2 linked regions of the Homo sapiens genome follow. The protein of the gene in region 1 interacts with the protein of each later gene in a biochemical or structural test. Each region holds a gene or a part of one and is shown in the gene's direction. Other genes may lie near its edges.

Evidence for each region.
Region 2: the proteins of ENO1 (region 1) and DRC2 form a complex in vitro, tested with the Homo sapiens proteins (one study listed by BioGRID).

What each region holds. Positions count from the first base shown.
Region 1 is NC_000001.11:8,861,504-8,865,316, reverse strand, and holds part of ENO1 (alpha-enolase), read left to right. Parts: coding exon 1-32; intron 33-1,224; coding exon 1,225-1,426; intron 1,427-1,973; coding exon 1,974-2,082; intron 2,083-2,371; coding exon 2,372-2,430; intron 2,431-3,813. UniProt on the Homo sapiens protein: Glycolytic enzyme the catalyzes the conversion of 2-phosphoglycerate to phosphoenolpyruvate. In addition to glycolysis, involved in various processes such as growth control, hypoxia tolerance and allergic responses.
Region 2 is NC_000012.12:48,917,320-48,921,132, forward strand, and holds part of DRC2 (dynein regulatory complex subunit 2), read left to right. Parts: intron 1-955; coding exon 956-1,153; intron 1,154-1,365; coding exon 1,366-1,584; intron 1,585-3,610; coding exon 3,611-3,763; intron 3,764-3,813.

The sequences.
Region 1 (3,813 bases):
CCTGTACAAGTCCTTCATCAAGGACTACCCAGGTGAGTGTTCCCCGAGTGCCATCTCCCTTTCCTGCCACTGACCTGCAGCAGGGCAGCTGGAGCATCTGGCTGGCTGGTGATGGCTGCAAGGAGGGGATGGGGAGGGAGTGTCTGAACTTCCAGCTCCCGTAGGGGATTCACCACTGGGTTTGCCCCCAGTTGTGCATACACAGGGCTTCACAGAGGTTCTTGTGTAGCTAAGGAGCTCGGGTGCCAGCAGCGACATTGCATAATAAGTTGTTCACAGTCAGGAGCAGAGGCAGTCTGTGCTCCATTAGACAGGTGAGGGAACCAAGCCTTCAGAATCAGAACAGCCACTTGGTACTGAGATGTATCATGCTTCCTGTGAGCTGGGAATATTCATTTTAGGCTGTGTGTGTGCACAGGATAGAGACTGTGACCACCTTTCTACAGGAGAGGAAGCTGATGGCTGGCTGAATAATCTGCCCGAGAGCACACAGCAAATGGTGGGGCAAGAATTCAGACCAGGAAATCTGACTCCAGAGTCTGTGTGTTTAACCACTACCCTAAATAACTTGGTCAAGGTTGAGCCAAGACCCAAACTCAGGTCTTCTCACTTCTGAGTCTGTGGCTCCATTCTGATTTTCAGTGGCACTAAACTCAAACAACCCTAGACAAAAAGTGTCCTCTTCTTACAGGTCTTAAACAAAATTTTTGAGGCTGGGCATATGGTGGCTCACGCCTGGAATCCTAGCACTTGGAGAGGCTGAAACGGCATCACTTGAGCCCAGGAGTTTGAGATCAGCCTAGGGAACATAGCAAGACTCCATTGCTACAAAAAAATAAAATAAAATAAGTAGCTGGGTAGGTTGGCATACCCCTATAGTCCCAGCGACTCAGGAAGCTGAGGTGGGAGGATCATTTGATCCCAGGATTTCACAGCTGCACTTAGCTATGATTGCACCCCTGCACTCAAGCCTGGGTGACAGAGTGAGATTTTTTTTGTTTTAGATCTATAGATACCCAGGATTGTGGGTGACTTTTGTCCCCTGCTGCAGGAGTAGGCTGGGGCACATTGTTTCAAGGATCAGTTGGGGAGCTGTCCCCATCCTATGCTTTTGGGCATTGTGAGGCCAGGCGAGCAGCAAGTCAAGGGGGAAGCAAGGCTGGGCATTGCGGTGGAGCACACTGGGAGGATCACACTGATGAAGCGTGTCCCTCCTTTCCTTAGTGGTGTCTATCGAAGATCCCTTTGACCAGGATGACTGGGGAGCTTGGCAGAAGTTCACAGCCAGTGCAGGAATCCAGGTAGTGGGGGATGATCTCACAGTGACCAACCCAAAGAGGATCGCCAAGGCCGTGAACGAGAAGTCCTGCAACTGCCTCCTGCTCAAAGTCAACCAGATTGGCTCCGTGACCGAGTCTCTTCAGGCGTAAGTGTCTTCCCAGGCGAGCAGCTTTCCCGCAGCTACGGCTTGTGAATCAGAAAAGGGCCCTTTTGTTCTGGTGATGGGGAATCCTGCTGGCCAGAATGTAGGACTCGCTGGAATTTTAACAGGTTTTGTGTTTGAACTCAGGAGCCTTTTAAATTAAACAATTGGGGCCTGTAATCCCAACATTTTGGGAGGCCAAGGCAGGAGGATCACTTGAGCTCGGGAGCTCAAGACCAGCCTGGGCAACATAGCAAGTAGTTGTATTCTGTGAAGAGCTCTGTCAGAGAACACTAATCTTTCTCCCATCAAGGGAGGCTGAACCCAGTGTTTCAACTATGACAGGAGGGCTAAGAAGGTCCTGGGGGTGGAAGAGTTCAGGGGAGGGTGAGGGTTCTCCTCTGTGCTCTTGACAAAGCCCAGGCATGGAGGGCTTTAGCCATTAACAGCCCCTCCACTGCTTTCCTGCTGGCACCGAGGGGTAATGGCATTGGGGGTTATGGAACCAGAAAATGGGATCATGCCATCTGGGTTGTTCCTTGGCTTCCAGGTGCAAGCTGGCCCAGGCCAATGGTTGGGGCGTCATGGTGTCTCATCGTTCGGGGGAGACTGAAGATACCTTCATCGCTGACCTGGTTGTGGGGCTGTGCACTGGGCAGGTAAGAATGAGCGTCTCCTCCTTTCTTCTCTGACCTCAACTTCCTAGGAAGACCCAAAACCAGTGAGGCTCCATGTCTGTCCCCGTTTTGCTCATGTCCCCTGAGTCAGTGCTCTTGTTTCTGAGGCTGAACAGAATGGGGGCATGAGCGCCCTGCCTGTATGTTGTGGCCCCCACTTTCCTAGCATCAGATCCTCTAGAAATTCTCTCTCTGACACCACACCCTCTCCCTGCCAGAAATGCCTGCAAAGCTTGTCCGCTGTAAGCAAATGGCCTTTCTTTTCTCCTAGATCAAGACTGGTGCCCCTTGCCGATCTGAGCGCTTGGCCAAGTACAACCAGCTCCTCAGGTAAGGAGGGCTCCTGAGAACAAGGGGCCTGTGGTTCACTAGGTGGGGGCCTGCACTCAGTGTAGGCACTGCCCTCCCCCAGGAGCTCCTGGCTCTGGGAACATGTACAGGTGCAGGTGCACAGTGCAGACAGCCAGGCCCTGAGCAGGCTTAGGTCAGGACAGAGTTAGGCCTAGACTCCCCCTACCCACCCACTGCAGCGCCACCAGAGGCAGGAGCCTGTTCCACACAGTGCTGCCCTCTTCTGGTGAGAAAGAATGGGACCCCCTTTGACAGCTGATGCATGACTTTCTTAGAGCTTTCAGAGAGCTCCTTCATATGATCTGTTTCAGCGCATTTAACCCCTGTTTGTGGATGTGGAGCCAGGGCTGGGAGGGAGGAAGAAAAGGCCGAAGGGCACATGGCTGGGTTTCCACTTGTGAGCGCTGTGGGGCTGTTCTGGTCTCCCTTTCCTGTCTGTGTCCTTGGGAAGCCCCTGAACACCAGGAGACTTGTCCCCCCGCCCGCCACCCCGCTAAGTTCTCCCATATTACCCCTTCATTCAAACTGTATCCTGGAAATTTTCAAACATATACAAAAAAGCAGGTGAACAGTAGACGCAGGGCTTTTTTGTTGTTTTGTTTGTTTGAGACAGGGTCTTGCCATGTCACTCAGGCTGGAGTGCAGTGGGGCAGTCATAGCTCACTGCAGCCTCAAACTCCCATTCTTTTTTTGCTGGGGAATTTTATTTTTATTTTTTTGAGAGGGATCTCACTCTGTCGCCCAGGCTGGAGTGCAGTGGCTCAGTCTTGGCTCACTGCAACCTCTGCCTCCCAGATTCAAGCAATTCTCCTGTCTGAGCCTCCCGAGTAGCTGGGATTACAGGTGCCCACCACCATGCCTGGCTAATTGTTTTGTATTTTTAATAGAGACGGGGTTTCACCATATTGGTCAAGCTGACCTCGGGTGATCCTCCCACTGTGCCTGGCCCCAAAATGTGTTGGCCTTTTTTTTTTTTTTTTTTTTTAACATCAAGATCCAAACAGCTCACACATTTTGTCTTTTAATAAGGTCACTCTCCTTTTCTCCCCATGCCATTTATTTGTTGTCCCTTCAATATTTTTTAAAAAACAAAAGCATTAGAATTTTTATATTCCAAGAAATGGCAATGCTGACATTTTACTTTGCTCCTCTGCAACACTGACGGGGAGAGGAGAGGAAGAGAAGGGGCGGTGGGTGGAGGGCACCTAGCATGGTGAGTTGGGATGAGGAGAACTAAATACTTTTCTATATCTGGCTTCTCAGAGAAGCACAAGTTTAGAGGGTTTAAAGAAGGTGGACAAACTGGAGAGTTCTGTGTTCTCAACTTCCCAGGAGTGGGGCTGTGTCTTTGACCACATCTAG
Region 2 (3,813 bases), on another chromosome or scaffold:
CAGGCGTGGTAGTGTGTGCCTATGGTCCAAGCTACTTAAGAGGCTGAGGTAGGATGATCGCTTGAGCCCAGAAGATGGAGGCTGTAGTGAACTGTGATAGCAACACTGCCCTCCAGCCTGGGTGACAGAGCGAGACCCTGTCTCAAAAAAATTAAAAAAAGAAAAAAAGAAAAATGCTCAAGGCTACTAGAAGTAGAAGAGACCCCTTTAGCCAACACAGTCAATAAAACATCTATTGCCCCCTGTAGGTATCCCTAATGCTTTTTGTAATTTTGTGAAAATTGGTTGGGAGGGAGGACCATTCTAAATTGTCAAGGGAATGCATTTTAGAGCTAAAAAGCACCAAGGAGATCATCTGGCTTCACCCCTGTGATTTTCAGATGAAGAAAGTAAGGCACAAGTAAGTAAAATGACCTGCCAAAGTCATGCTGCTGGTTTGTGGTAGAATCAGGAGAATCTAGGTCTCCTGCCCCTTGATCCAAAGTGCTTTCCACTGTCCTCGAGGTTGCAATCTTAGCCAGCCCACAGACCTAGGTTTGGGTATGGAGTTCTTTGTTTTTATTTACCCCACAGTGTTTTATACAATTTTTTGAATAAGCATCCTACACTTAAAAATTGGAGATTTCACAAAAACATCCAAATTTTCAGCTTCCCTTGAAAAATTTAAAGATCTGGCAACACTGGGCCACATTTCCAAATGGCAAGGCTCACGTGGAGCTCAGTGACTGCCCCTCCTCCTCCCAAATGCAGCATTTCCTCTCCAGTTCACCACAGGCCCCACCCGGCCCACAAAACATATTTATATCATCTGCCTGGTCTTGTGTAGGCATTTTCATGGGAGACCTCTGTACTAAACTATGCTACAAACAGTTCAAGAGGGTGGGATTGCTGGTAGAAGTGAAAGGGCACTAATAAGGTAATTCCAAACATTTGCTATTTTGGGGTCACTTGCTAGAATTTAGAAGAGAAGCACTTTCTAAGACTGCACCTGGAGAACAGAGTAGAAGATCTGTGGAGAAAGTTCCAGGATGTACTCAAGAATTACACTGATGCCACAGAGGATCGAAAGGCTGCCTTTGAGACCCTGCAGGTGAAGGATGAGAAGAGCTCCAAAGAGATTGAAGTACAGATGAAAAAAATACAGAAACTACAGGTTAGTGTAGCCACCTGGAAATACTCACTGCTTTAACTGCTCTATTATCCCCTCTTTTGCTTCCCCTTGTTTCCCCTGGGCCTCATCACTGATCATTGGTTGGGAAAAGATGATATGCTCTGATTTCAGTCCCCAGGCAGCCCTTTTACCTGTCTCACTGAAGACCCTCAGTTGGTCAAGTAGATTTCCCCTAATCTACTCTGTTCCTCTAGGATGCCATAACTATTTCAAAAGGCAAGATCATGATACACAGCCGTGAGAGTGAAGATGAGAACCGGTATATCCGTAATGACAAGGAATTGGTCCTTGTACAACTGCGAAAACTTAAGGCCCAAAGAACTCAGGCCCGGGCAGCATCCCAGAAGAACTTAGTCAGACTCACCCTGGAAAGTAATGCCACCCTCAAGGCCCTGAGAAAGATTGTTGATAAGGTAACACAGGGGAGAGGACTATCAGAATAAAGTCAAGGAACCTGCCTCCCTGCAAAGTGAAAGGGATTTGGAAAGGATAGCGGGGGCTTCTTCCTGCTTCCTGGCTGAGTGGACACTTGGAATACCTTTTTTATTCCATGTTTCCTCCCCTCTTACATTAAATTAAATTAATTTATTTATTTATGTATTTCTACAGATGGGGTCTCACTGTGTTGCCCAGGATGGTTATGAACTCCTGGCCTCAAGCAGTCCTCTTGCCTTGGCCTCCCAAAGTGCTGGGATTAGAGGCGTGAGCCACCCTGGTGAGCCCCTTCCTACTTTTTTTTTTTTTTCTTTTTGGTGAGACAGGGTCTCACTCTGTCTCCCAGGCTGGAGTGCAGTGGCACCATCTTGGCTCACTGCAACCTCTGCCTCCTGGGCTCAAGCATTCCTCCCGCCACAGCCTCCCCAATGCACAGCTAACTTTTGTATTTTTTGTAGAGATGGGGTTTCGCCATGTTGCCCAGGCTGGGTCAAACTCCTGGCCTCAGACGATCTTCCCACCCTGGCTTTCTAAAATGCTGGGATTACAGGCATGAGCCACTGCGTTGAGCTCCCCCTTACATTTTAATTAATTATTTTTTTTTTTGAGACGAAGTTTTATTCACTCTGTTGCCCCGGCTGGAGTGCAGTGGCATGATCTTGGCTCGCTGCAACCTTTACCTCCCCAGTTCAAGCAATTCTCCTGCCTCAGCCTCCTGAGTAGCTGGAATTACAGGTGCGCACCACCACACCCGGCTAATTTTTGTATTTTTAGTGGAGACAGGGTTTCACCATGTTGGCCAGGACGTTCTCGAACTCCTGACCTCAGCGATCCACCCACTTTGGCTTCTCAAGTGCTGGGATTACAGGCGTGAGCCACCGCGTCTGGTCTACATTTTAAATTGAAATGAATTGGCCAGGCATGGTGGCTCATGCCTGTAATCCCAGCACTTTGGGAGGCCAAGGTGGGAGGATTGCTTGAGCCCAAGAGTTTGAGACCACCCTGAGCAACACAGGGAGAGCCCATCTCTACCAAAAAAAAGCTGGGCATAGTGGCACATGCCTGTGAGCCCAGATACTTGGGAAGCTGAGATGGGAGGACCACTTGAGCCTGGGACATCGCGGCTGCAGTGAGCCAGGATTGCACCACTGCACCCCAGCCTGGGTGACAGAGTAAGACCCTGTCTAAAAAAAAAAAAAAAAAAAAAAAAAAGAATTAATAATGAATGAGTTTTGGCTGGGCGCAGTGGCTCACACCTGTAATCCCAACACTTTGGGAGGCCGAGGCAGGTGGATTACTTGAGGTTGGGAGTTCGAGACCAGCCTGACCAACATGGAGAAACTCCATCTCTACTAAAAATACAAAATTAGCCAGGCATGGTGGCACATGCCTGTAATCCCAGCTACTCGGGAAGCTGAGGCAGGAGAATCGCTTGAACCCTGGAGGCAGAGGTTGCGGTGAGTCGAGATCGCGCCACTGCACTCCAGCCTGGGCAACAAGAGCGAAACTCCATCTTAAAAAAAAAAAAAAAAAAAAAAAAAAGAATGAGAGAATGAGTTTGTTTTTTTTTTAAAGGAATGAATTATTAATAATGAATGATTTTTTTTTTTTTTTGAGACAGGGTCTCGCTCAGTTGCCCAGGCTGGAGTGTGGTGGCACCATCTCGTCTCACTCCAGCCTCTGCCTCCTGGGCTCAAGTGATCCTTCCATCTCAGCCTCCCCAGTAGCTGAGACTGTAGGCATGTGCTACCATGCCTGGCTTTTAAATAATTTTTTGTAGAGATGGGGTCTTTCTATGTTTCCCAGGCTATGAATCAATTTTACAATAAGAAAATACTTGGAATAGTGTGTGTTACATGGTAACCTCCATTTGCTATATGTATTTATTGCTATTGTTTCCCACTTGGATGAGTAGCTTCCCTGGGTTCAAACAGGGGAACCAACTCCACTAGCTTCCCTCTTCACTCCCTTTCCTAATATAAACTCTCTTCCCGCTTCAAATAGGGTGAAAAGATCCTTAAACTTGCTGAAATATGTAGGAAATTTGAAACCGAAGAAGAAAAAGTGCTGCCTTTTTATTCATCAGTATTGACTCCTAAGGAGCAGGAGGGGATTCAGAAGAATAATCTAGAAGAGCTTACTGAGGAGCTCACCAAGGTAAAGCCCGGGGGATGGTGGGGCATTGGGCAGCATTTGCTAATGGGTCT